4 linked regions of the Homo sapiens genome follow. The protein of the gene in region 2 purifies or fractionates together with the protein of the main gene of each other region. This does not show direct contact. Each region holds a gene or a part of one and is shown on either strand. Other genes may lie near its edges. The genes, in order: YKT6, ARL6IP6, PMVK and NAA50.

Region 1 (3,855 bases), on a different chromosome or scaffold from region 2:
GGGGTCAGCTTTGGCTCCTCCAGGAACCAGGAAGCTTCCAGGTACCCTGTGGAGCCCCCTCTGCTCCTGAAAAGTTGCCACCTGTGCTTGGTGGGATGCCAGGTGGTCTCAGATTGACCCTGGGGTCAGCGGTGAGGGACAGGAAGCCTACAGCGGGATCAGGATGGGGATGGGGCCTCCTGTCCCATGGCTCTGCAGCTATGAGGCAGCTTTCCTAGGGTGGGTCTCCTGGCTGCAGCTAAGACCAGGCAACAGGATTCAGCAATGACAGGGCTTCTTCTACTCCAGGGCTCCCTCACCTGGTTAACAGCAAAAAAGAAAATACAGTTCCTGCTAGCAAGGTCTATAGAAAGGAGGTGAAGGAGTCAGGCCTGCAGCTACCTCTCCTGGACAGGAGCTGGTCAGGATAACTTGGACCCTTGCATGCGGCAGGCCCACAGGCACACAGCATGAGGCCACTCTCTCCCCCGGGGGAAGGGCTTGGTGAAGAAAGGATTCCCCTGAAGCACAAAGAAAGCACAGGACCACTGTGAAATTTCAAGACAACTTTATCCAGACAGGCGCCTCTCAAATAGAACACAGGGAAGTTAGGCAGCAGTTACTAAAATACAGTCTCGCCAAATGATTTACAACAGAACACAACAGGAGCAGGGGATCTGTGGGTGGGGCTGGGCTGGGCCCTCTATCTCACAGGGCCTGAGTCAAGCCAGCCCGCCCTGCAAGGCAGGGGCTGACCTGCAAGCGGAGATCTCACTTCCTCTTACCCCAAATTCATACCTCCATTTTCCCCGCCCCCATCTCTCCCCAGGGTCCTCAAGTGGGAAAGGGAGAGGTAGCATCCCTCGGATCCAGGCCCACTCCACTCCGTCTCCGGCACCAGTGGGCAGGCTGAGTCTGGGCCTCAAGGGGCCCTGGGCTTAGGGTATCTATGGCAGTAGGAAAATGACATGGACAGGCTCTTCAGGGGTAGGCTAAAGTCCTCTGGCCAGCAGTACCCAGAGAAAATGGGCAGCAGCAGGTAAACCAGCCAGGAGGTGGAGTCCTCTGAACCCACAGCAGACCCCACCCTCCTGCCCAGCCCCTGCCCACATTGGGGGTCAGGACCACTGAGACTCTGGTCAGGACAGTGGGTGCTCTCAGCAGTGTGGCAAGCTCAGAGCAGAGCTCCCAAGGACCATACCACACTGGTTCAAAACCCATAGGTGACACCATCCCAGCAGAAGCTTCCATGGGTGCTGGATCCCAGGGCTGCATCCTGAGCACAGGTGGGCAGACTGGAACATAACACTAGGACCCAAGGGATCCAGAACATTTTAGGCCCATCTCCTGGGCTGCTCCAGCCTGTTGCCATGACTTGGGCAGTGAGTGGGCCTCCTGCCAGGTGGCAGGGCACAGCTTAGACCAAACCCTTGGCCTCCCCCCTCTGCAGCTACCTCTGACCAAGAAGGAACTAGCAAGCCTATGCTGGCAAGACCATAGGTGGGGTGCTGGGAATCCTCGGGGCCGGCTGGCACCCACTCCTGGTGCTCAAGGGAGAGACCCACTTGTTCAGATGCATAGGCCTCAGGCGGTTCAAGGCAGTCTTAGAGCCACAGAGTCAAATAAAAATCAATTTTGAGAGACCACAGCACCTGCTGCTTTGATCGTGATGTTCAAGGCAAGTTGCAAGTCAAGGCAAGTGTCCCAGAGGCCCTGGGCAGCTGAGTGCACCTGTGTTTGATCTTCCCCTGATGATGGACACTCCCAGCTGACCATCCAAACACCAGGAAAACATCCCCCTTTCCTGGGCTCAGTTCCTAGTCTACTTGCTGGTACGAACCCAACCCACACACTCCCCGCCCACAATGCAGCTCCTTCCAAATCCTCCCACAAGCCACCTTTGTGGGACTTGGAAGCTGCTTAGGATGGGCCCTGCCCTCTGCGGGAAGCCAATCCTAGCAGAAAGGTAAGCTAAACAACAGTCTCAGAATCTGAGACCCAGTGACTGTTCCCCCCGCCCCAGGCCTTGGGCCTGAAGTGGGGGCCTGCCTGTGGCCTCTGTGGTGGGCTCACTCCCACCCCCAACAGTGGCCCCAGGAGAGGCTTTCCCAAGAGTCTTCAAACTCCACCCACCCCAGCCCTAGCATCAGGGACTCCCCACCCCCCACTGGAGTGTTAATATCATTAATGTACAAATAAGATCCAAAGATATACCAAAGATCGAGAAACAGCTGGCTCCGACCTCCCTCCCACAGAGCCTTCCCAGGGTTAGCTGAAAAAGAGCCCTTTGGCATCTACAGAAGCCAGTCGGAGTTTATGGTTTCATTTGCCCAAAAATACACCTTTGGGGACCTCAAATTCTTTCCAAGAATCACTACCACACATATGAATTTGAACATTCGCCACCCTTCCACCATCCATTTCTCGCAGGAACTTCAAAATAAAAATGGCCAGTCTGCCCCCACTCTGGCTCCTCGTCTATGGCTGTCTCTTCTTTTCCAGGGGCTGCAGTTCTGATGTGAATGATGGTGCCATTCCAGCATTGGGCCTCTGGCAGGCTGCATCACATGATGGCACAGCATGAGTTTTGTTTCCGGGCCTTGGAAAAAAACAAAGAGGAGCTGAGAAGGAGGACTGACGAAGTAAGGGAAGCCCCAATCCTGGCAGGCGTGGCAGAGGGAGCTCCACAGGACACAGCCAGGCAGAGAAACTAGCACTAGAACAGGGTGGGGGTGGAGGCCTTGAGGGAAGCTGTCCACAAGCAATTCCCATCACCAAGCACAAGGCGGGCCCCGGCTTCCAAAACTAGTCTGGGATCCTTTTTCCTTTCTTTTCTCACACCCCATTAATGCTATCAAAAAGTGAGTAAAATTCCTACAGTTAGGCCAGGTACAAACAAAGGACCAATAATACAAATGGGATTGGCAGAATATCTTAACTTTGCCCCACTCCTGTCTTCACACAATGCTATCTGACCACCACGGTGGTGTTTCTTCCTAGAAGATGGTCCTGAGGACAACAGATGTGGTTCCCACTTGGGATGTGGTTTGTGGGGACCACTGTTGCCACCTTCTCTCTTGCTTTCTGGTCACAGACTATCTTCCTAATCCCACCTAGCCATCTCCCTCCAATGTGCACATGAAAGCAAATGTGTGTGGACAGACCAAGTAAATTTGTCCCTATGACTATCCAACCATGGGCCAACAGTGCCATCTCCACATAGGAAGACATGAGCACTGACCTGAGAGAAAGCGGCAGTCAGCAGCACCCATCCTTGTCAATTAAATATTTTCTGTCAAAGGGAAATTAAAAGCTTAAGAACCTCTTCAGGAAGGCTGAATTGCTTGCATCTTAAAGACTTATGTCTACTCAGCAGAAAGAGGAATAAGATTCAACAGTAAATCTCTGGTGATCAGAACTTGAACCAGCCTTCCTGGACTGGGAGTAGGAGTTCAGAAATCAGCCAGAGCAGCAGAGGGCAGAGCAGAGGCAGGAGTGGAACAAGGCCTCGGCCCGCATCGACTCCAACGGCGCCCAAGTGAACTGCCTCCAACCACCTGGGCCTGAGGCGCTCACCTTAGGCTCTTGCCGCACAAGGAATCATCCACCATGATTCAACAGTCTAAGAAAGACCCGTTCATAGTGGAGAGTGCCAGAAGCAGCAAGCTGCGACTGCTCTCTAGAGAGAACACCCAGGAGGCAGCAGGTGCTGGGTACTCACAGTTTTATAGAAGGCTTTAGACTGTGTTCCCAGCACCTCGGATTTGGACACCAAGTCATCTAGCTTCTCACCTCGCTCTAACAGAGACTCCATGGTGTTGTGCTGGACAAAAAAGAAAAGAGAATCCAGCTCTGTTCAGTACGTGCCCTGACATG
Region 2 (6,315 bases):
AGTACTTTCGTCCTGATAAATGTATTTGAAGTTATAAATTACCCTTACACAGTGTTTTATCTAGGTCCTACAAATTCTGACATGTAGTATTTTCACTGTAGTTTAAGTATTTTGTTAAGTATTATTCTTCCCATTCGACAGGTAAGGAAACCGGGAAATGCTAAGATATTAAGTAACAGTTGTAGTTCAAACTCATTACGTTGTATTAACTAAAGAATCATATCTTGATAACTACAGTAATATTCTTTCTGATAACACTTAAGGTGGAACTGAATTTGGGGACATAATTTCTTGATGAAACAGCAAGATTAATAATAGTTTAATTTATTCTAAAATGTCTTTTCAAGTCCCTGAGACTAATCACTAGCCACAGGAATACTTACACCCCGTTTATCTTTCACAAGTAACTAAATAGAATGCTGTAAGCTACACATAAGGAGATGAGATCATCTGAGTCAGTTTCACAATAGAGATGGATTCCAGCTGCTAGATAAGCTCATTTTGACTTGTTTTGTTGCAAATGACAAAAGCCAATGTAAACTGCAAAGGCCAAAAGACAGAAATTTATTGACTCACGTATCAAGAATGGCAGGATTGCCACTGGGCTTCAGGGACCAGGGTAACGCCATTAGCAATATCCGTTATCAGCCTTATTCTTTCCCACTGAGCCTGGCTGAACTACAGCTGCCAGCATTTCCTGGGCTTGCATTTTCCCAGCTTCGTCACATCTTAATTTCAAGCTGAAAAATCCTGGGAAGAGACATACTTCACTGAAGTCATTTCTCTATTCTACTCATTGTAGCCAGGCAAAATGAGATTAGGATTAGCTCAGCCAGAGTTAGGTGACTATCCTTGCCTAATCATTCTGCATATAGATGATTTATATTTGGACCCTGTGTCAGACTGGAGAGAGGAGGGTCATTTCCCAAAAAAGGGGAGTAACAGTCCAGAAGAATTAGGATTCCACAAAAATATCTTACGGATACATCTCTCTCTATATTTATCTATATTAATATATATCTTGTAGGTATATATAGTCATGTTTGGCTTAATGACAAGGATATATTCTGAGAAAAGCGTCATTAGGCAATTTCATCATTGTGTGAACATCAGAGTATACTTACACAAACCTAGATGGTATAGCCTACTACACACCTAGGCTATATGGTATAGCTTATTGCTCCTAGACTATAAACCTGTACTGCATGTTACTGTACTGAATATTGCAGGCAACTGTAACACAATGGTAAATATTTGTGTATCTAAACAGAGAAAAAATAAAGTAAAAAATGCAGCAGTATAATCTTACGGGGGGATTCACTATCATAAGTACAGTTCGTTGTGACCAAAACGTTGTTATATGGCACATGACTGTCTAGGGTGTACATATCTCTATCTAGGGTCTACTGTTAATAACTTTCCTAGTCATTAGACACAAACAATCTGGAGGGAGTTACTCACATTGGTGGTGCGTGGGAATACAGAGTGGTGGAGAGAAGATAAATTGATTCTGTTACTTGTGTACATCTTTGCAATGAAAGGGCTCTTTGGAGTCAAAGGGTGAAGAGTTTAAGCGTGCAGGAAGGAAGGCAGGGAGTGAAAATAGACTGATGGCAACCACCACTCTGGTAGGAATACTTAAGCCATGGGATTGATATTTAGATACACACACACACACACACATTTCAGATAATTTAAATTGGAGCAGTATTAGTCATTTCCAACCAAAGAGTTTTGAATAGTAAAAGAAATGCGAGACTTTTAGAAACCTTGTTTAGTCGGTAACAACATTCAGTAGATAATTAAGGGAACACACTGCACAAATTCATTTCCCACTTAGCCTGAATAAGCAGTTTGACTACTTAATGGTTTCTTATTGTAAGTTTTCCTATGGCCAGGGAAAACAGCTTTGTAAGTAGTCCATCTTTCTAAAACTGAGGTAACTTTCTAAACATTAAAAGTCTTTAGTAACATAGGGGAAAAATTAAGGCTTAATTACTTAGAAAACAAAATATCACAATTACAGGAGCACATTTAATTACAAAAATTATAAAATTATATTAACTATATGTAGTTTTTAATATCTAGTATCAAAATACCTTTTCTACTTTGGTAACTAAATTTTTGAGATTAAGAACAAACTAGTTCAATCATTCTCACATACAAAAATTTCATGTTTATATTTATTAAAAACAAAATAATGCAAGTTCTGTTAAAGTAACAATATATACACCAAGATAAATATTTGGAATTGTGGAAACAGAAATAGTAAAAATTTCAAATTTTTTCTCAATATCTTAATGACTTAAATAATTTAGCTTTTTTCAGGCATTTTTTGTTAAAAATAAACTTACTTAATTTTCAACTTAGGTCAATGTGCTTTTTTGCTTTTTTTAAAGACAAAAATTAGTAAAAATGGCAGGTACTAGGTTTGCACTAGCTAAAAAAATAATGTTTACAGTTGTCTAGATGTAACAATTTTAAAAACATACAAATTCAGTATGTAGTATGAAAATACATTAAAAAAACACATAAGGAACTATGCCCCATAAAAAATATAAATGCAACTTCTATTAATTATATGAATATCAAAAATTAAATATTCTGATTTAAAAGTAGCTTCTATAAAAGTCGGAGTAGTAGGCATTATTTGCTTTCCTAAATGTATAAATAAGAAGTATTTCTAGCTCAACTAAACAGAAATATCAGTATTTCTTAGCAAAAAATGTAGTACATACATGAAAAGGCAAGCATTGTCCTGTATTCAAGTTTTTGAGTTTAAATTCCATTAAAATGTTTCCTACAACTTGAAAGAACTACACACACAAAAGTAAAAAGATGAGGTAAACATCTTATACTCTGAAGAAAGTACTTAATACTCAGATATTCCCAATTAATCTGTATCTTAATACTCAGACATTCTAAAACAATGCTTTAAAAGGTCTTCCATAATGAGGATGATTGTGATAAATATCTGAACTACATAATGAACAGCAGGTTTCTCAGTCTTCTGAGTAGACAGTGATGCTCCTTCTTGTTATTACAAAACAATCATGATTAAGTTTTGCCAACAATATCGCTCCAGTGTGGGTTTACATGAGGCACCATGCTACAGTAAGAGCAGCTACGATGCCATTCAAAATCGCCATGCTATAGCCCATGTGGAAAGAATGTCCAGTCAGTTTCCTAGAAAAAAAGAAAAACACAAATCAAAAAAGAAAAATGTAACGTGGTATAACAAAGACACCAAAAGTTTTCATCGAAAATACTTATGACCTTGGAGTGTATTTCCCAAATGTTCACATATGAATACAAAACTTAAAGAATATTGGACATCTGCAGGATAAATAGTGGATAGATCTTATTAAGTCCTGTGTCAAAACTGTACTGGTTAACAATTACAGTTGTTTCAAATCATTACTGATGAGTAATGCTGAGTTTCATCCCTATTATTTCTTTACTGTGTTTCATTGTCACTGTGTGTAGCCATAACCTAATTCTAAGGTATAAGTTTTGTTATTTTACAAACAGTTCTTTCATTAATTAGCGGTGTGTTTCCATGCTGTCTGTTCTTACTTTGATTTGACTTAAAATACATATTATTTCAAGTATTTGTTCTGTTTGCACCACTTTTAGGTTATATGAAGGAACTCCCTATGTCTTTCATAGATATTTCAGCTATCATTCTAATAGGTTACTTAATTGAAGTGGTTTTCAATGAGTTCTTAAGAATCAGCAAAGACACATCTCTTTTATGATTGCTAGGAGTGCCAACTAGTTTAATAACTCTTATGTGCATGAATATTCCCTGACATTTGTTTCCTTTATCTTGTAACAATCTTACAACAGTTTTTCCCACTAACTGTATTGCAATAATACTATTTGCTTATCCTAGTAAGAATCAGACATATTAAAAAGAAAAGAAGGTAGTATCCAACTGAGACTCTCTAGAAGGCAGAACAGAATACTCTCCTTTCTGGAGCAAAACAAATTGAGGACACACAGGAAGGTGCACTAGCAGAAGTAAAAGCCAAAAGACAAAAGCAGTAAGGGCCCTGGACTGAGACGGTCATAAATACCCATATCCTCTCCTCCTTTCCTAAGGAGTAGCCAAAGCCAGAGAAGCACTTAGCTGTGAACTAACACTTGAAGAGCACCTCATAGTGATTCCAGTCGCACAATATCTGTGGCAGAGATTGAAGAAGGTACATTCTTCAAAGAAGAGCCCTTTGCATTCATCTGAAGCTACATAGACCCTGATGCTTCCTGATGGTTCCCTGCTCTGTTCCAAGGGAGTTATTATTTACTTTCGACTCAACCTTTCTTTACCCAACTAGGGCTAGTCAAAGATGCTTCTCATGTGTTATTAAGGGTTAATCTACCTACCTATATTACCTATCTACATCGTAAAATAGGTATAATGCTTTGTCCCTTTAAAAAAGAAATTCCTCAAATATATGTTGATGACTAGTGAACAGAAACCTAAAGTTGAACAATCAGCATTATCATTCATCATAAAATATTTAGTGACGATCCAAAAAACTTTTAAATTAATACAGTTCGGTCTTCCATATCAGTGGGTTCCACATCTGCGAAATGAACCAAGCAGGTAGAATATATTTTGAAAAAAAAAATGCATCCGTACAGAACATGTATACACTTTTTTCCCTTGTCAATCCCTGAACAATAAAACAACTATTTATATAACATTTACATTGTATTAGGTATAATATTATAAATAATGTGGAGATGTTTTAAAGTATATGAGAGGATATGCTTAGGTTATATGCAAATACTAAGCCATTTTTGAATGAGACTTCAAGTATCCTCAGATGTTGATACCTGTGTGGAATCCTGGAACCAGTCCTTCACAGATAAAGGGGGATGACTGTACTCACCCAATAAAGTTAATCATCAAAAGGTTTCCAGAGTTAATTGTTCTGTTTTAGTAGTTTGTGATCCTCACAATCCCACAAAAATAGAAAAACCTTTAAAGTTCAGTTTACTAAGCCGACAACTACAATGTTGGTAGAATTGAATTTTACTGAGATGTACATGCTCAAATGTTCAGTGACTTCCTTACTAAGCAGGCAAAGCAATGCATTTTAATGGCAATGAAAAAATGCTCGGGAGTAGTGGTTCCTAGTCTTTGTCATCTCAAATGTACCATATTCCCACTGGGAACACTGTAGCAATTGTCACAGACTACTGCTAGGTAAAGGACTTAAATCTTTGAAGAATCACTTGCTTTAATTTAAAGCTTTTCAAAATATTCACCATGATTTTCCTCTTTGGAGGAAGACAGACAATCCCTGCAGGCTTTCTCTCTTGTGACTCTCATTTGTGATCTCTAAAGTCTGTTAACAAAGACTGAAGGAATTATGGTTCTCCTTTGTCAAAACTCTATAGAGGACTTATTTAAAATTGACTCAAGTAAAATGAAAATATTATCTTCAATTAATGAGTTTAATATCTTCAATAAATGATAATTAAATACAATGTCTACCTCATCCAATCTATATCTATACATGCATTTCACTTTTTTAATTAAAGCATACCAGTAAAATGCAAATGTCTAACATTTATATACAGTTCAATGCATTTTTACTGTGGTAGACTCTCATATACTCACCAACCACATAAAGATAGAGAACATTTCTGGCACTGCAAAAAGATCCCTTTTAAATATTCAACTTACCTCCTGCAGATCTTGAGGTAACTGCAATACTGAGGGCTGTCACCAAGATTAGTTTCACTTGCTCTTGAAACTACATCTACATGGCATCATACAATAAATATTTTTCTGCGTCTGCCTTCTTTTGCTCAGTACTGTCTTTGTGAGATTCATCCATGTTGTATGTAGTATTAGTTTGTTCTTTTCTACTGCAGTATATAGCAAAATGTATTTACCCATTTTACTACTGATGGGTGTTTCCAGTTTGGGGCTCCTATACATACAGGTACTATGAACACGTCTTCGGTGGGTGGTGGGAATCTGCACTTATTTCTCTTGGATAGATCCTAGGAGTAGAACTGCTGAGTTACAAGGTAGATATACATTAGGCTTTAGTAGAAAGTATGAAAAATAGTTGTACCAATTTACACTTCCACTATCAACGTATGAGTTTAAGTTGTTCCACATCACCATGAACACTTGGTATTATCAGTGTTATAAATTTTAACCATTTTAGTAGGTCTGCAGAGTATGTTGTAGTGGTTTTAATATTTATTTTTCTGATGATTAATGTACTTACTGACCATTCAGAAAGCCTCTTTTTTGATGTTTGTGTTCAAAACTTTTTCTCATTTTTTTCT
Region 3 (7,121 bases), on a different chromosome or scaffold from region 2:
CTGATCTCGTGATCCGCCCGCCTCAGCCTCGCAAAGTGCTGGGATTACAGACGTGAGCCACCGCACACGGCCCTTCTTTTTTTCTCTTTTTTGAGACAGAGTCTCACTCTGTCGTCCAGGCTGGAGTACAGTGGCACCATCTCGTCTCACCACAACCTCTGCCTCCTGGCTTAACCAACCATTTATTGGGTACCATATTTGGATCTAGGTGATACAAATGTGAATGATACATGCTTCCTGTCCTAGCCTTGAGATGCTCACAATACACTTAACGCACAGGAAGATAAGTGCTGTTTTTGAGACTGAGTCTCACTCTGTAGCCCAGGCTGGAATGCAGTGGTGCAATCTCAGGTCACTGCAACCTGCACCTCCTGGGTTTAAGCTATTCTCCTGCCTCAGCCTCCCAAGTAACTGGGACTACAGGCCGGCGCCACCACGTCCCACTAATTTTTGTATTTTTAGTAGAGAAGGGTTTTACCATGTTGGTCAGGCTGGTCTCGAACTCCTGAGCTCAAGTGATCCACCCTTCTCGGCCTCTCAAAGTGCTAGGATTACAGGCGTGAGCCACTGCGCCCAACGATAAGTGTTCTTTGTTTTGTTTTGGTTTGGTTTTTTAAGAGTCAGGGTCTTGCTGTCACCCAGGCTAGAGTGCAGTGGTATGATCACAGCTCACTACAATCTTGAACTCCTGGGCTCAGGCAATCCTCGCACCTCAGCCTCCTGAGTATCTGGGATTACTGGCATGCACCACCATACCCAGCTAATTTTTTTTATCTTTTGTAGAGAGGGGGTCTCACTATGTTGCCCTGGCTGTAAGTGTTCTTATTTTCATGTTTCAGATGAGGAAGCTGAGGTTGTGAAAGGAGGATTGACTCCCCCAAAGCAACACTGCAAGTAGTGAAGCCAAGATTGGTAAAATAAATATAGCCAACATTTAGTTCCTGCACCTCTGCTAGGTGCCAATAATTATTCTAAGCCCTTCACACACATTATCTCATTTAATCCCCACAACCACCCTATTATCATCCCCATTTTACAGATGACAAAACTGAGACGCAGGCCAGGTGCGGTGGTGGTTCACGTCTGTAATCCCAGCACTCTGGGAGGCCGAGGCAGGCAGATCACCTGAGGTCAGGAGTTCCAGACCAGCCTGGCCAACATGGTGAAACCTGTCTCTACTAAAAATACAAAAGTTAGCTGGGCATGGTGGCACACACCTGTAATCCCAGCTACTCGGGAGGCTGAGACAGGAAAATCGCTTGAACCCAGGAGACAGAGGTTGCGGTGAGCCGCAACCTGGGTGCGCTCCAGCCTGGGTGACAGAGCAAGACTCCGTCTCAAAAAAAAAAAAAAAAAAAAAAAAAAAACATGAGGCACAGAGTGAATGACAGATGTGTACAAGATCACACACTAATCAACAGTGAGCCAGGGTTTGCATCCCAGCAGTCTAATTCCAGAGCCTGTGCTTCGGACCACTATTTGACGTCAGGGTTTGGAGGTGAGGAGAAATGCAACTTAGGAAAAGGTGGTGAGATACTTAGTGATGAAAAATTCAGGTGGTGACCTCTGCTCTGGGCTCTCCCACACCTTCATAGAACCCCCGTGGTACCCAAAAGCAGCTTCCTGGTACCCCCACCACACTGGCCTTCAAGAGGAGAGGAGCCCCACTTTCTCCCCAACCTCTGCTCTCCTAGCCCAGGTCTCAGCAAAATGCTCCTGCACAGAAGATCTTGCTTTGACAGAAAACACTGTGCAAAAGGTATTATTATTTGGGGAGGCAGCCAGATAAAACAGAAAGAAACCAGTCCTTGGCGCAAGATAAAGTTGAATTTGTTTGGGTTTTTTTTCTTTTTGTTTCAATTATATATTAATTGCTGAGATGCCCATCATGAACCACAAAGCTGAATTTGAATCCTGGATTTGCCACTTACTTTGTGACCAGCAAGGGTTTTTTGTTGTTAACTTCGTATGTTATTTTATTTTATTTTACTTCGAGACAGGGTCTCAGGCTCTGCTGCAAGGACTGGAGGACAGTAGCATGATTACAATTCACTGTAGCCCCCAGGTTCAAGCGATCCTCCCACCTCAGCCTCCTGAGTAGCTTGGACTAGAGGTGCTCGCCATCGCACTAGGCTAACTTTTCCATTTTTTTGTAGAGACTAGGGTCTTACTGTGTTGCCCAGGCTGGTCTCCACTACTGGGCTCTCAAGCCATCCTCGCACCTCTGTCTCCCAAAGTGCTGGGGTGACAGACATGACCACCACACCCGGCCTGTTTAACTTTTTAAGAGCCTCAGTTTCTTCACCTGTGAAATGGAGATGCTAATAATGGCACACAGTACCTAACAAAGAGGTGAAGAGGGTTTTTTGTTTTGTTTTTTTAAGACAGGGTCTCGCTCTGTCGCCCAGGCTGGAGTGCAGTGGCCAATCTCGCCTCACTGCAACCTCCGCCTCCCGGGCTCAAGCGATTCTTCTACCTCAGGCTCCTGAATAGCTGGGACCACAGGCACGCGTCACCACGCCCAGCTACTTTTTGGATTTTTCGTAGAGGCGGGGTCTCGCCATGTTGCCCAGGCTGGTATCCAACGCCTGGTATATAGAAAGTGCCTTCGTAGGAACCATTATTAATGCTTCTCAGAGAGACCTGCAGCTGAAGGTCTTTGGAGAGGTGGTCACCTGCTTCTTTGAGGCTCGCCTGTGTAGACTACTGTTTTATGTAATGGTGGCATTCCACCTTCCCCAGCCCAGTGCTCCTCCTGCCTTGCAAACGGACGACCCGTACTCCAAAGCTCACTCCGTGACACCCAAAAGCACTCCTCGTGTCACGTGATGCGGAGAGCTCCCCCTTCCACCTTTCCCGCCTCACGGACACCTGCTCTGCAGCGCCTCGGTCACGAAGTCCTTCCCGGATTTCCTCTTGCCGCTGAACAGCAGTACCAGCCGCGGGGCGCCTCCCAGCGGGGCCATGGGGCCGCCACGCCTCGCGATGCCTGAAGCTGACACTTCTCCCTACCCCTAAAATCGGGACACCGCGCGGAATGGACGCGGCCACTAAGCGGAGCGGCAACAAGGAACAATCGCGCCCCTCCTCGCCGTAGCTGCGAACAGGGCTGACCGCCCGCGACCGTGCCCTCAGCTCATGTCCAAACAGATATGGGGAGAAAAGGGTGAGACACGCGGAGAGAAAGGCGGTTCCTTCACAGAGCAGCCTCCCCTCGTGAAGCTCCCCCACCCGAACTCACTTAGAACAGTCCAGCCCCGCCCAGAACCTTCGCTCACAGCCTGGCCTGCTTAACTGACACCCGGGGAGGAACCGGACGCGACTACCTTCCTCCGAGGGGGGTGACGTCTGAAATTTCCTGAGGTGAACCCCATGTTCCCTTCCGCGCAGCCCTAAAACTTTAGGAAAAAAAATCTCTGGAGTGAGATCACGTTGGAGACGTTTTGGAAACTGCCCTTTTGCCTGTGCGTTATAGTACATGTGCCACAGCAAATCTGCGCGCGCCCCAGAGTGGGAATGGGTCTTCCTGGGGGCGTAAGGCAGCCCTGACGCGAGCGGCGTGTCTGGCCACGTCATGTCGGGGGAGGAGCAGAATCGCGCACACGATATTTCATTGTCAAGCAGATTTTATAACCCGAGACGTCACTAAGATGTGGCCCTTTAAGCCCGGCGAGAAACCTTTGATTGCTTTTCTAGCCGCAGCCTCCGGCCCAAAGGTTTTCGGAAGCAAACGGCGTGGGTGACATCAATAGTAAGGGAGCGTTGAATCCCTAGATGAGATTGCCTGGTTTCATCCGAAGTCTGGCTCCCAGCCAGAAGTTTGAGAGGCAGGATAAGAATAATCTGTCCTTTCCCTGCATCCCCGGTTCTGCCTCTTCCCGCAGTAGGTGACGGGTTGCCCCAGCTGAGTACGTCGAGTTGTTTTTGGCTATGACTTGCCGTCCTGCATTTTTCTGAGCATGTCAGAACAGAGCCTGCAACTCATTACTGCCTCCACTAGAGAAAAAGTGTAGTGTGGAGACTTAGGGAGAAACCATTAATTTCCTGAATGTTGAAAAGAGGCACAGGAGAGTGGTCAGATGCAAAAAGAACAGACTTAAGGAGGTGGTTTTTTGTTTTTTGGGGTTTTTTTTGTTTTTTTTCAGCAACCCAGAAAACACTGCACTCATCAACGCCCTAGAAGGCAGCACAGAGTGGATTTTCAGTCCCAGCTTGGACACTTAGCAAGTCACTCTGAGTTTACCACTGATAAGGCCCACTTCCCAGGGTTATAATAAGAAAGGAATGAAGAAAATATATGACAAGGTACAATAAAATACTTTGTAAGTTCTCAAGTATCATCCAGATGTAAGGGGTTGTTATTTATTCTTAGCACTTCGTCATTCAACACAGAATCAGATTTTCCAGCTCATCTTCAATAAACATGTATTTGGGCCTCCACGGAAAGTCCACATCTCCTGTTTTACCTGAGTCACATGGAAGGAGTCAGAACTTACTCCCGGAGTCTCTTTCCTCACCTGACCCAATGCACGCCCCTTACCTCCCTCTCTGACTCTGAGATCCAGCTCCCTGAATACCTAGTGAGCGATCAGAAAACTTCCCCCAGGCTCACGCCTGTAATCTCCGCACTTTGGGAGGCCAAGGCGGATCACCTGAGGGCAGGAGTTCGAGACCAGCCTGGCCAGCATGGTGAAACCCCATCTCTACTAAAAATACAAAAATTAGCTGGATAGCTGGACGTGGTGGCGGGCACCTGCAATCCAGCTACTCAGGAGGCTGAGGCATGAGAACACTTGAACCTGGGAGGCAGAGGTTGCAGTGAGCCAAGATTGTACCACTGCGCTCCAGCCTGGACAACAGAAAAAGACTCCGTCTCAAAAAATAAAAAAAAACTTCCCCCATACTAGGCTTCCTAGTATGCCTCAACTGAACTCCACTGTCCCTTACTGGTGTCTCAAGTGGAGGCTTTAGTCTCCCAGCCCTCATCCCTCAGCATCCGCTTTGAGTCTATGGCCTCCCTTCCTCCCCATTTTAATTTCCACACCATTACTCATCCTGCCTCTTGGAAAACTATGGTTCCTCTAAGGCTCATGCCACCTGCCTGCGCTACCCTCCTGCTTTCCTCAGTACTGGCAGCCCAGCAATCCTGGTGGTTCATTTTCATTTTCTTTTGTTTCTTTATGCAGACGGGGTCTTGCTATGTTGGCCAGGCTAGTCTGGAATTCCTGGGCTCAAGCAGTCCTCTCTGGCCTCAGCCTCCAAAAGTGCCGGGATTACCAGTGTAAGCCACTGCACCCAGCCTCATTCTCATTTTCTGAGACTCAGCCACTGGCTCCCAGTCTCCTTTTCTACAGAGTTGCTGTCATCATCCTCGGTGACATCACGGTCATGGCCAGCCCATCCAACACCCCGCTGCTCAATCCCTTGGCCCTGGCTGTTCAAAGCCTTTTCCCCCCTCTCCTCCTCAGAGGCCAGCTCCTATGGACACACCCTGGGCTTTGTCATCACCAGAAGCTGCTCAACCTGCAAACTCACATGCTCATCCACCCAACCCTCCAAGGTCACTTGCTCAAATACTCCCCAAAGTAGCACTTCCCTCCCAAGTCCACTAGCTGGTGGAACTGGTTACATTATATAACATGCTCTGCCTGCCTTCCACAACCCAGGGGAAAAAAGTTAAATGTGGCCCGGTGCAGTGGCTCATGCCTGTAATCCCAGCACTTTGGAAGGCCGAGGCGGGCAGATCACGAGGTCAGGAGATCGAGACCATCCTGGGTAACACGGTGAAACCCCATTTCTACTAAAAATACAAAAAAAAAAAAACAAAACAGCCAAGCGTGGTGGCAGGCACCTGTAGTCCCAGCTACACTCGGGAGGCTGAGGCAGGAGAATGGCGTGAACCCAGGAGGTGGAGCTTGCAGTGAGCGGAGATCAGAGATCACGCCACTGCACTCCAGCCTGAACAACAGAGCGAGACTCCATCTCAAAAAAAAAAAAAAAAAAGAAAGAAAAGTTAATGATCCACCTAGATGACAGCCATGGCTTGTTTCTTTTCTTTTTTTGAGACAGGGTCTCACTCTGTGCCCAGGCTGGAAGTGCAGTGGCGGATCATAAGCTCACTGCAGCCTTGATGTCCTGGGCTCAAGCAATCCTTCCACCTTCAGCCTGCTGAGTAGCTGGGACTACAGGTGTGTGCCACCATGCTGAGTTAAACTTTTTTTTTTTTTTTTAATTTTTAGTAGAGATAAGGTCTTGCTATGTTTCCCAGGCTGGTCTCGAACTCCTGGCCTCAAGCCAACCTCCCATCTCAGCCTCCCAAAGTGCTGGAATTACAGGCATGAGCCACAGCGCCCAGCCAGCCTGTTCCTTTGCTGGCCTCATGCCACTATTTCTGGACTAGTCCTGTCATTCCAGATGAGCAAGCATTGATGGCCAGCCTGTTTGACCCATGGGCAATGGACCTTCCAAAGGGAGCTATCTAGCACTTTCCTCTCCACAGCATGTGGCTTCAGGTGTCTGCCTATCCTGCTCTAGCCAGATGACCTGTCCCTTTGATTTTGAACAGAGTCTCAGTGATGACCTCAATGGATGACCCTCCCCTCTGCTGAATGCCTCCCCTGGGGCTGAGCGAAGGTAAGTGCCCCATGCTGGTGAGAACTCCTGCAAAGGGGCCCTGCTCTGGAGAGGAAGTGGAGGGTGGGGGGAATGGTGAGGATTAGTGGCACCCCTCCCATTTCCTACAGTAGCCATCCCCTCAGACCTGCAGGCTGCCAGTGGCAGAATTTGCCCCCTCTGTGAACCATCTAGCTATAGGCTATAACACCCTTACCTCAGGCCTCACCTTTGCCTAGCCTGAAATACCTTCCCCCATTCTCCCATCTCTGAAATCCTATTATCTTTCAAGATCCAACTCAAAGGCCACCCCTTTCTTCCTCTTCACCCAGTTGGCAGACTGCTCCTGGCACCATTAAGAGAGTACTATTAAAATTCTGCTTTGTATGCAGCTAATCCAATTAGCCTCGGGGCAAGGATTGGGGGGCCCCACAGCATCTAGCACAGTATTGAGACCTGAATGCTAGTTAGCATCTTTTCCCGCCAGCTCCTGCCACATCGGGGAACCA
Region 4 (7,038 bases), on a different chromosome or scaffold from region 2:
TAACACACAGAAAAAAAATGATGAAAAATAAAAAACTAGGGTCTCAAAGCTTGAAGATATATCTTCCTTCTGATTGATAAAATACATGGTATGTTTTAAAAATTAAAAACGCAAGCTTTCTCAATTACTCCCAAAATAACACTGTATAATTCAATCTCTCACATGGCCAAACTAAATTATGAACATCCATGACTGTGATCTTAGTCATAACTCTTTATCTACAGCCTCTTGAGATTCAAGTACAATCTCAGCTAGGTAATCTCTGATTTTGATTATTAAACTCTACTACAAATGATCTACTACAATGTTCAAAGCTATCAACATAGCCTTGAACAAAACACACAAGGTTTTGCATGAGAAAAGTAGTATTAATAGTCTTGAATTCTGAAGGCCTGAGTTTTAATCCTGATTTCATCCCTGTGACTTTGGTGCTCTCATCCTAATATAATAAAGCAATGTGTTCTATCTCAGGTTCCTAATCTACTATTATTAATAAAACAAAACTAAACAAAACTAACAACTACTCGAATACTTTGTAACAACTACTTCCACAGTGTTTCCAAAGGCACAATAAGTGACCAGATTTTAAAGTTTCTAGTAAAGATTTCTCCTGCCAATTAAACCCCTTTGATAAGAACATTAAATATTATTTTACTTACAGATAAATGTTGTCAAAAGTACCATCTTTTTCACAGATGTTTAAGACATGATTTAACATTTTAGTTCCTGTTAATAAAATAAATAACAAACACGTGACTTCATAAATCAACCTTTAAATTATGTATCTATCCACTTGCCATCTGAACTACTTATTGAGTCCTAAAAGAATTTATGAGGTATACACTAGATATCCTTATTTTCCAAAGTTGTGTTCTCTCTCTACAATAGCTACGTATGTTTAAAACTGTTAGCAGAAGACTAACCTTTTTAAACAAGCACTTCCGGGTAGAAGAAAAACAGAAAAAGCAGAAGGGGACGTAAACAGCAAATCTATGTAGGGCTTCCAATAGAATTATGTTAATAAACACTAGTTATTTTTCACCATATTTTACATAATTCAGTAACCCTTTCTCAGTATTCCTTAAAAAGACCCAAATTAACTTACTAGGTCAGACACATTAACAAATAATATGTTTATGCTTCTCTGAAGAAGTAAAAAAACCACAATTTTTTACCTATTCCTAGCCTTCGGTAAGGTGCCAGACATCCTAGTGTCATGATGTAAAGTCTCTTCTGATTCTGTGAATGATCCACCCTACAGCATACTGCACCTACAGCAATATCATTGAAATAGGCTGCCAAGGAAAACATAAAGATATAATGTTGAACAGACAGAATAACACATTTAATCTTTTTCCCTTTTAAAGGACTACACTGTTCCTATCAACATTAAATTTCATCAACTATTTCATGAATATCAATGATCTCAAAGCTCTTATGCCATCTTAGGAAGTTTAAGCCTCCTCTAGAGTATAGCTTAAAGTGAAAACACACAGGTATACACTAAGAACACTAAGCATTTCTTTTTAAAATTCAACTGTTTTATTCAACTGATTTCTCTGAGATTTTTCTCACAACCTAGACCACTCCCATTTCCTCACTTATAAAATAAACAAACTAAATTAGTTAACTTCTTCTGCTCTATAAAAAACTAGGGTTCAAGAACAAAAAGAAAGAAAAGAAGGGAGGACAAAAAAAAAACTATATTATACCAAGTTTTGCTAGCTCGCCAACCTCCAGCACATCCTTGTAGAACTTGTCATTGTAGCTGACTGGAAAGATGACCTGATTCAATCTTTTCAACTGTTTAATATTGTGTGGTGTCACATCTCCCAGCTCGATCCGGCTACTGGAACAAATCAAAATGTACTCAATAAAACATAATTAGCCCCATTTGTTAATATGAACATATGAAAGGGGTACCAAGTCTTTTTTACATGATTGATAAATCCAACTCTTTCAGAGTTGATTTATAAGCAAATTATCATTTATAAGCAAATTTTGACAGTCATTCAATACAAATTCTACTCATAGCTTTCATATAATTACATACATTCAGGGACAAATATGGTACACAACGACTACTACAAAGGCCAGAATAACATTCTGCAAGTGTCAAAATTTTCCTTGTAGTTCATAGTTCAGAAAAATTTAGATACACCTATTTCTGGTAAAATTACAGTTCCTTTGCCCAAGTATCTTATTACTTCTAGTAATTTATTCTAAGAAAACAATGGAGGTATGCAATACCATGCACATTCTATTCATGAAAACCGTGGTCTATGAACTACCTACATCAGAGTCACAGAGGTGATATGCAAAATTCACATTCCTGGATACACATACCCCATTTTCAGAACCAGAGTTGCTGGAAACGAAACAAAGGAATCCACCATCTTGAAAATCACCCCAGGATGAAAACTATCCATTAAGAAAGCAACAGGAGTGATATGGTTTGGCTGTGTCCCCATCCAAATTTCATCTTGTAGTTCCCATAATTCCCATGTTGTGAGAGGGACCCGGCGAATCATGGGGGCGGTTGCCCTCATGCTGTTCTCGTGATAGTGAGTTCTCACAAGATCTGATGGTTTTATAAGGAGGCTTTCCTTCACTTCGCTCTCATTTCTCCTTCCTGCCACCATGTGAAGAATGATGTGTTTGCTTCCCCTTCCACCATGTTTATAGGTTTCCTGAGACCTCCCTATCCCTGCGCAACTGTGAGTCAATTAAACCTCTTTCCTTTATAAATTACCCAGTCTCGGGTATGTCTTTATTAGCAGCATGAGAAAGGACTAATAAAAGGAGCATTCCTAAGAAACCACTTGTAATCAAAACAATTGGGTCCATGGAAAAGATTAAAGCGAAAAATTTTCAGTTCCAATTTCTAACAAAGTATCAAAGGTATTCTGCCTGCAGAGCTGTAAACAAAGAATTTTTAATAGCTGAAGTGAACTTCAATACTGTTAAAGGTGGATCAAATGTGATAAGGCAAACCTGACAGCATTCTACAATTTTTTTGCTCCATCCGTATTATTTGCCCAAAAAGATGTTGTAGCATATTGTGTTTTGTAGAGAAAAAGCACATTTCAACTATATTTAACAACGGACTTTTGTTAACATATACAAAAACATGCTTGAAAGGATTTTAATTTGTAGTAGAAATTGTAATTTTAAAAACTGTATTTTGAAATGTTAAAATTTAGATTAAAATGCAAAAAAACAAAAACAGAAACAAAAAAAAACAGCTGGGCATGAAGGCCTGTAATCCCAGCACTTTGGGAGACCGGGGTGAGAGGATCCTTTGAGCCCTGGAGTTCAAGACCAACCTGGGCATATAGCAAAACTTTGTAAGAAATTTTTTTAAAAAAACTTAACCAGGTGTGGTGGCGTGCACCTATGGTCCCAGCTACTTAGAAGGCTGAAGTGAGAGGACTGCTTGAGCCTGGAAGGTCGAGGCTGCAGTAAGCTATGATTGTGTACCATTGCATTCCAGCCTGGGTGACAGACTGTCTCAAAAACAAAACAAAAAACAGCAATAATTACAGATAAAAAAAGAAATTTCTAAATTTGATTTATCTGGAGAGGAATATGATGTAATATTTTATCTTATAGTACAAAGTTCTCTAAGATGTATTACTCTATAATGCCCAGTTTGGAGAACATTCTACTTGGTAAGGAGTTAGAGGCAAAAACAAGAGACTTTTACCCCCTATTTAAGTAGTCTGTATGAAGAACACAAAAGACAGCATAAAGCATCGTTTCTGTCATACTTAGCAGTTTTGAAAGGCTTAGCTCATTTGGAACTTTATCCTTCCTGCCTTGATTATTTTTTATACCACTAATCTGTATTATTTGTTGCAACCAATGATCTTTTCATGTCTTGTATGTCTTCCTAAAATCTGAACATAGTTTCTTAGCAACCACACAGATTAAATAAACAAACATGTTAGTAAAAGGGTAAGAGATTTATATATTTAAAAAACCCCTCAGCACCATAGGAAGTTTAAAAAAGTAAAAATAAAAAAATAGACATTTTCTTGTTATAGTCTCTTCCAACTTCTAGTCACTTAAGTATAGTCTTTTCTCATCCCAAGTATTTGACAACTATAATGAATTCCCTGTATGAAATTCATGTTTTCTTTAAGTAGATTACATCTCATTCACAGAACTCCCCCTCTTCATAACACTTTTCTGACTAAAATCTACTGGGCTCACTTTCCCCACTATCTACCATTCACATAAAAAAAAAAAAAAATTGGGAGGCCAAGGTGGGCAGATCATAAGGTCAAGAGTTTGAGACCAGCCTGGCCAATATGGTGAAACTCTGTCTCTACTAAAAATACAAAAATTAGCCCGGTGTGGTGGCACGTGCCTGTAGTCACAGCTACCCGGGAGGCTGAGGCAGAAGAATCACTGGAACCCAGGAGGCAGAGGTTGCAGTGAGCCAAGATCGCACCACTGTACTCCAGCCTGGGCGAGAGAGCAAGACTCCGCCTCAAAAAAAAAAAAAAGAAAGAAAGAAAGAAAAATCTGTGGATACTGTTATCCTGTAAACTATAGAATCCTTTATTTTTCTTTTTTTGAGACAGGGTTGCTCTGTTGCCCAGGCATAATTACAGGTCACAGCAGCCTCCGCTTCTCAGGCTCAAGTGATCTTCCCACCTCAGCCTAACGAGTAGCTGAGGAAGGCACATGCCACCACGCCCAGCTGATTTTTGAATTTTTTGTAGAGACAGGGTTTCACCATGTTGCCCAGGCTGGTCTACAGTTCCTGAGCTCAAGTGATCCGCCCACCTTGGCCTACCAAAGTGCTGGGCCTACAGGCGTGAGCCACTGTGCCTGGCCAAAATATAGGATCCTTTAAAAATGCAGTAGCTGACAGGGATCACATCTTACCTACACTGTCTCCTGTTTAACTTACCATAGTGCCACAAGTTGGGTGTAGTAATTTTTTTATATACAGTTTGTATTAATTTAGAGCATCTCATTTAAAAAAAAGTCTTAGTATTTAAAAAGTGATTTAAAATTACATTATGAAGTTGAAGTATCAACAATAATAGTAACTTAAGAACCTACAAAGTCAAGCTTCTAAAGTATAAATGAAAGAACTTGAGGTTTTTAAAACTTTAGGAATCATTTGTAGGTAGTAACTAGGCTTCAAGCATACTTACAGTTTTCAAAGAATAATACCAGGTATTTCTTGACTTCATACAAGAAGAAAAAGTGGTTATAGTGCACTGTGCTACAATGAGTCTAATAAAAGTTAACTACTAAAAAAAGTTTCCATTAGGGTGGCCAGATAAAGCCTAAATAGAGAAAACAATATTGAACCATTAGGAAATAGGCAGCTTAATCTTCCCCTAACTAATTAAAAAAATACATGCCTTTTTTTTTTTTAAAGCACACCATAGAAATGACGTAGAAAGGGAAAATATCCTGCAATAATATGGCCAGAAATAAGTTTGCTGATAGTCTTCCAATATTTTTCTATGCGCGTTATATATATGTATATACACGCTTTAAACAAATTTGAGATTTAAGTATTGTTTGGTAGCTGTTGGAAAAATTAAGCTGTTTTTGAGAAATTAATTTGATTTTTGCAAGAAACAAATATGCTAGAAAAATTTCAAAATGTTCACTTAATGTAACCTTGTCAGCAAAACTGAGCTTCAAATATAGTTTAACTCTCATTAACATGATATGTCTGACTGAAATGGAATACTTCTGTAATCCTGATCACTTAGCTCCAAATTATTTTAAGACATGGATTTTCTAAATATATCAAAGTACTATAATCAACTTGTAAATATAAGTTAGCAAGGAACACGGAGTTAAAAAAAAAAAAAGGCATAAGCATAAGGGATATGTAGACATGTCAAGAAAATAACATTACTTGAATGTAAACAACCAAAAAGGTTTTAGTTAGAATAACCTATAAAAAATTAAGTTAAAAGTCCAAATTCTCTATTAAAAAACTAACCTAATGGAGATTTAAAAAATTCTGTCAATCTAAATTTTTCTAAAGTTCTTATGAACATAATAGAGTTGCCTAAAGCATAAATCAATTATATTTCAATAAATATTTGAGTATCTATGTGTTATGCATCTGGAATGCAAAGGTGTTTACATCTGGTAGGAAAGACAGGTATATACAATGTGCTACTAACAGTGTATGTACATATAGTACAAAAATAATACTAGAATGAAGGTGACAATGGGAAACATTTTGAAGAACGACTAGCTTATCCTGTGGAAGGGCAAGAGATGCAGTCTAATAAAACATGAACAAAACAGCAGTGATGTAGTCCGAAAATCAGTCAGTTTGATATGGCTAAAACATCAAGTATGCTTGTGTATAAATGCGGAAGCTGAAAAAGAACCAATTTTATGACGGCCTCGTATATGGACGCATTTGGTTATCTTCTCTATAATTATTCTCTTGGTGATCTCATTCAATCTTGTAGTTGTGTGGCTTTAATGCTGCCAATTTCCAAATTTCTGTCTCTAGCCTATAGTTCACTCCTGAACTCTACATTCCTAGATCCAAGCAATCTCCAGCAGACACTTCAAAGTGAACATACTGCAAACAATTTCAAATCTTTGTTCCAAAATCTGCTTTGCTTGCAGTTTTTCCTGTCAATTGATGGCCTCTCCATCCTTGGCTGCAGTATATGTTAACTCCAAGTCTTTGTTCACATGGTATCTCAAAAAGGCTTACTCTTGATACACTTTTTTCCTTTTCTTTTTTTTTTTTTTTGAGACGGAGTCTCCCTCTGTTGCTCAGGCTGGAGTGTAGCGGTGCAATCTCAGCTTATTGCAACCTCCGCATCCTGGGTTCAAGCAATCCTCCTGCCTCAGCCTCCTAAACAGCTGTCATTACAAGCATGTGCCACCACTCCTAACTAATTTTTGTATTTTTAGTAGAGATGGGGTTTCACCATGTTGGCCAGGCTGGTCTTGAAATTATGGCCTCAAGTGATAGGCTCGCCCACCCTGGCCTCCCAAAGTGTTGGGATTATAGGCGTGAGCCACTGCACC

Evidence for each region.
Region 1: the proteins of ARL6IP6 (region 2) and YKT6 purify together in Homo sapiens (affinity purification with mass spectrometry; 3 studies listed by BioGRID and IntAct, with this or other methods). This does not show direct contact.
Region 3: the proteins of ARL6IP6 (region 2) and PMVK purify together in Homo sapiens (affinity purification with mass spectrometry; 3 studies listed by BioGRID and IntAct, with this or other methods). This does not show direct contact.
Region 4: the proteins of ARL6IP6 (region 2) and NAA50 purify together in Homo sapiens (affinity purification with mass spectrometry; 3 studies listed by BioGRID and IntAct, with this or other methods). This does not show direct contact.

What each region holds. Positions count from the first base shown.
Region 1 is NC_000007.14:44,210,970-44,214,824, reverse strand, and holds the end of YKT6 (synaptobrevin homolog YKT6), read right to left. Parts: intron 3,803-3,855; coding exon 3,701-3,802; intron 3,272-3,700; coding exon of another isoform or gene 3,257-3,271; exon of another isoform or gene 3,217-3,256; intron 2,579-3,216; coding exon 2,543-2,578; 3' UTR 531-2,542; downstream 1-530. UniProt on the Homo sapiens protein: Vesicular soluble NSF attachment protein receptor (v-SNARE) mediating vesicle docking and fusion to a specific acceptor cellular compartment. Functions in endoplasmic reticulum to Golgi transport; as part of a SNARE complex composed of GOSR1, GOSR2 and STX5.
Region 2 is NC_000002.12:152,756,618-152,762,932, reverse strand, and holds the end of ARL6IP6 (ADP-ribosylation factor-like protein 6-interacting protein 6), read right to left. Parts: intron 3,187-6,315; coding exon 3,093-3,186; 3' UTR 537-3,092; downstream 1-536.
Region 3 is NC_000001.11:154,933,720-154,940,840, forward strand, and holds the start of PMVK (phosphomevalonate kinase), read right to left. Parts: upstream 3,001-7,121; 5' UTR 2,967-3,000; coding exon 2,872-2,966; exon of another isoform or gene 2,729-2,871; coding exon of another isoform or gene 2,676-2,728; intron 1-2,675. UniProt on the Homo sapiens protein: Catalyzes the reversible ATP-dependent phosphorylation of mevalonate 5-phosphate to produce mevalonate diphosphate and ADP, a key step in the mevalonic acid mediated biosynthesis of isopentenyl diphosphate and other polyisoprenoid metabolites.
Region 4 is NC_000003.12:113,722,247-113,729,284, forward strand, and holds part of NAA50 (N-alpha-acetyltransferase 50), read right to left. Parts: intron 1,850-7,038; coding exon 1,713-1,849; intron 1,296-1,712; coding exon 1,176-1,295; intron 727-1,175; coding exon 660-726; intron 1-659. UniProt on the Homo sapiens protein: N-alpha-acetyltransferase that acetylates the N-terminus of proteins that retain their initiating methionine. Has a broad substrate specificity: able to acetylate the initiator methionine of most peptides, except for those with a proline in second position.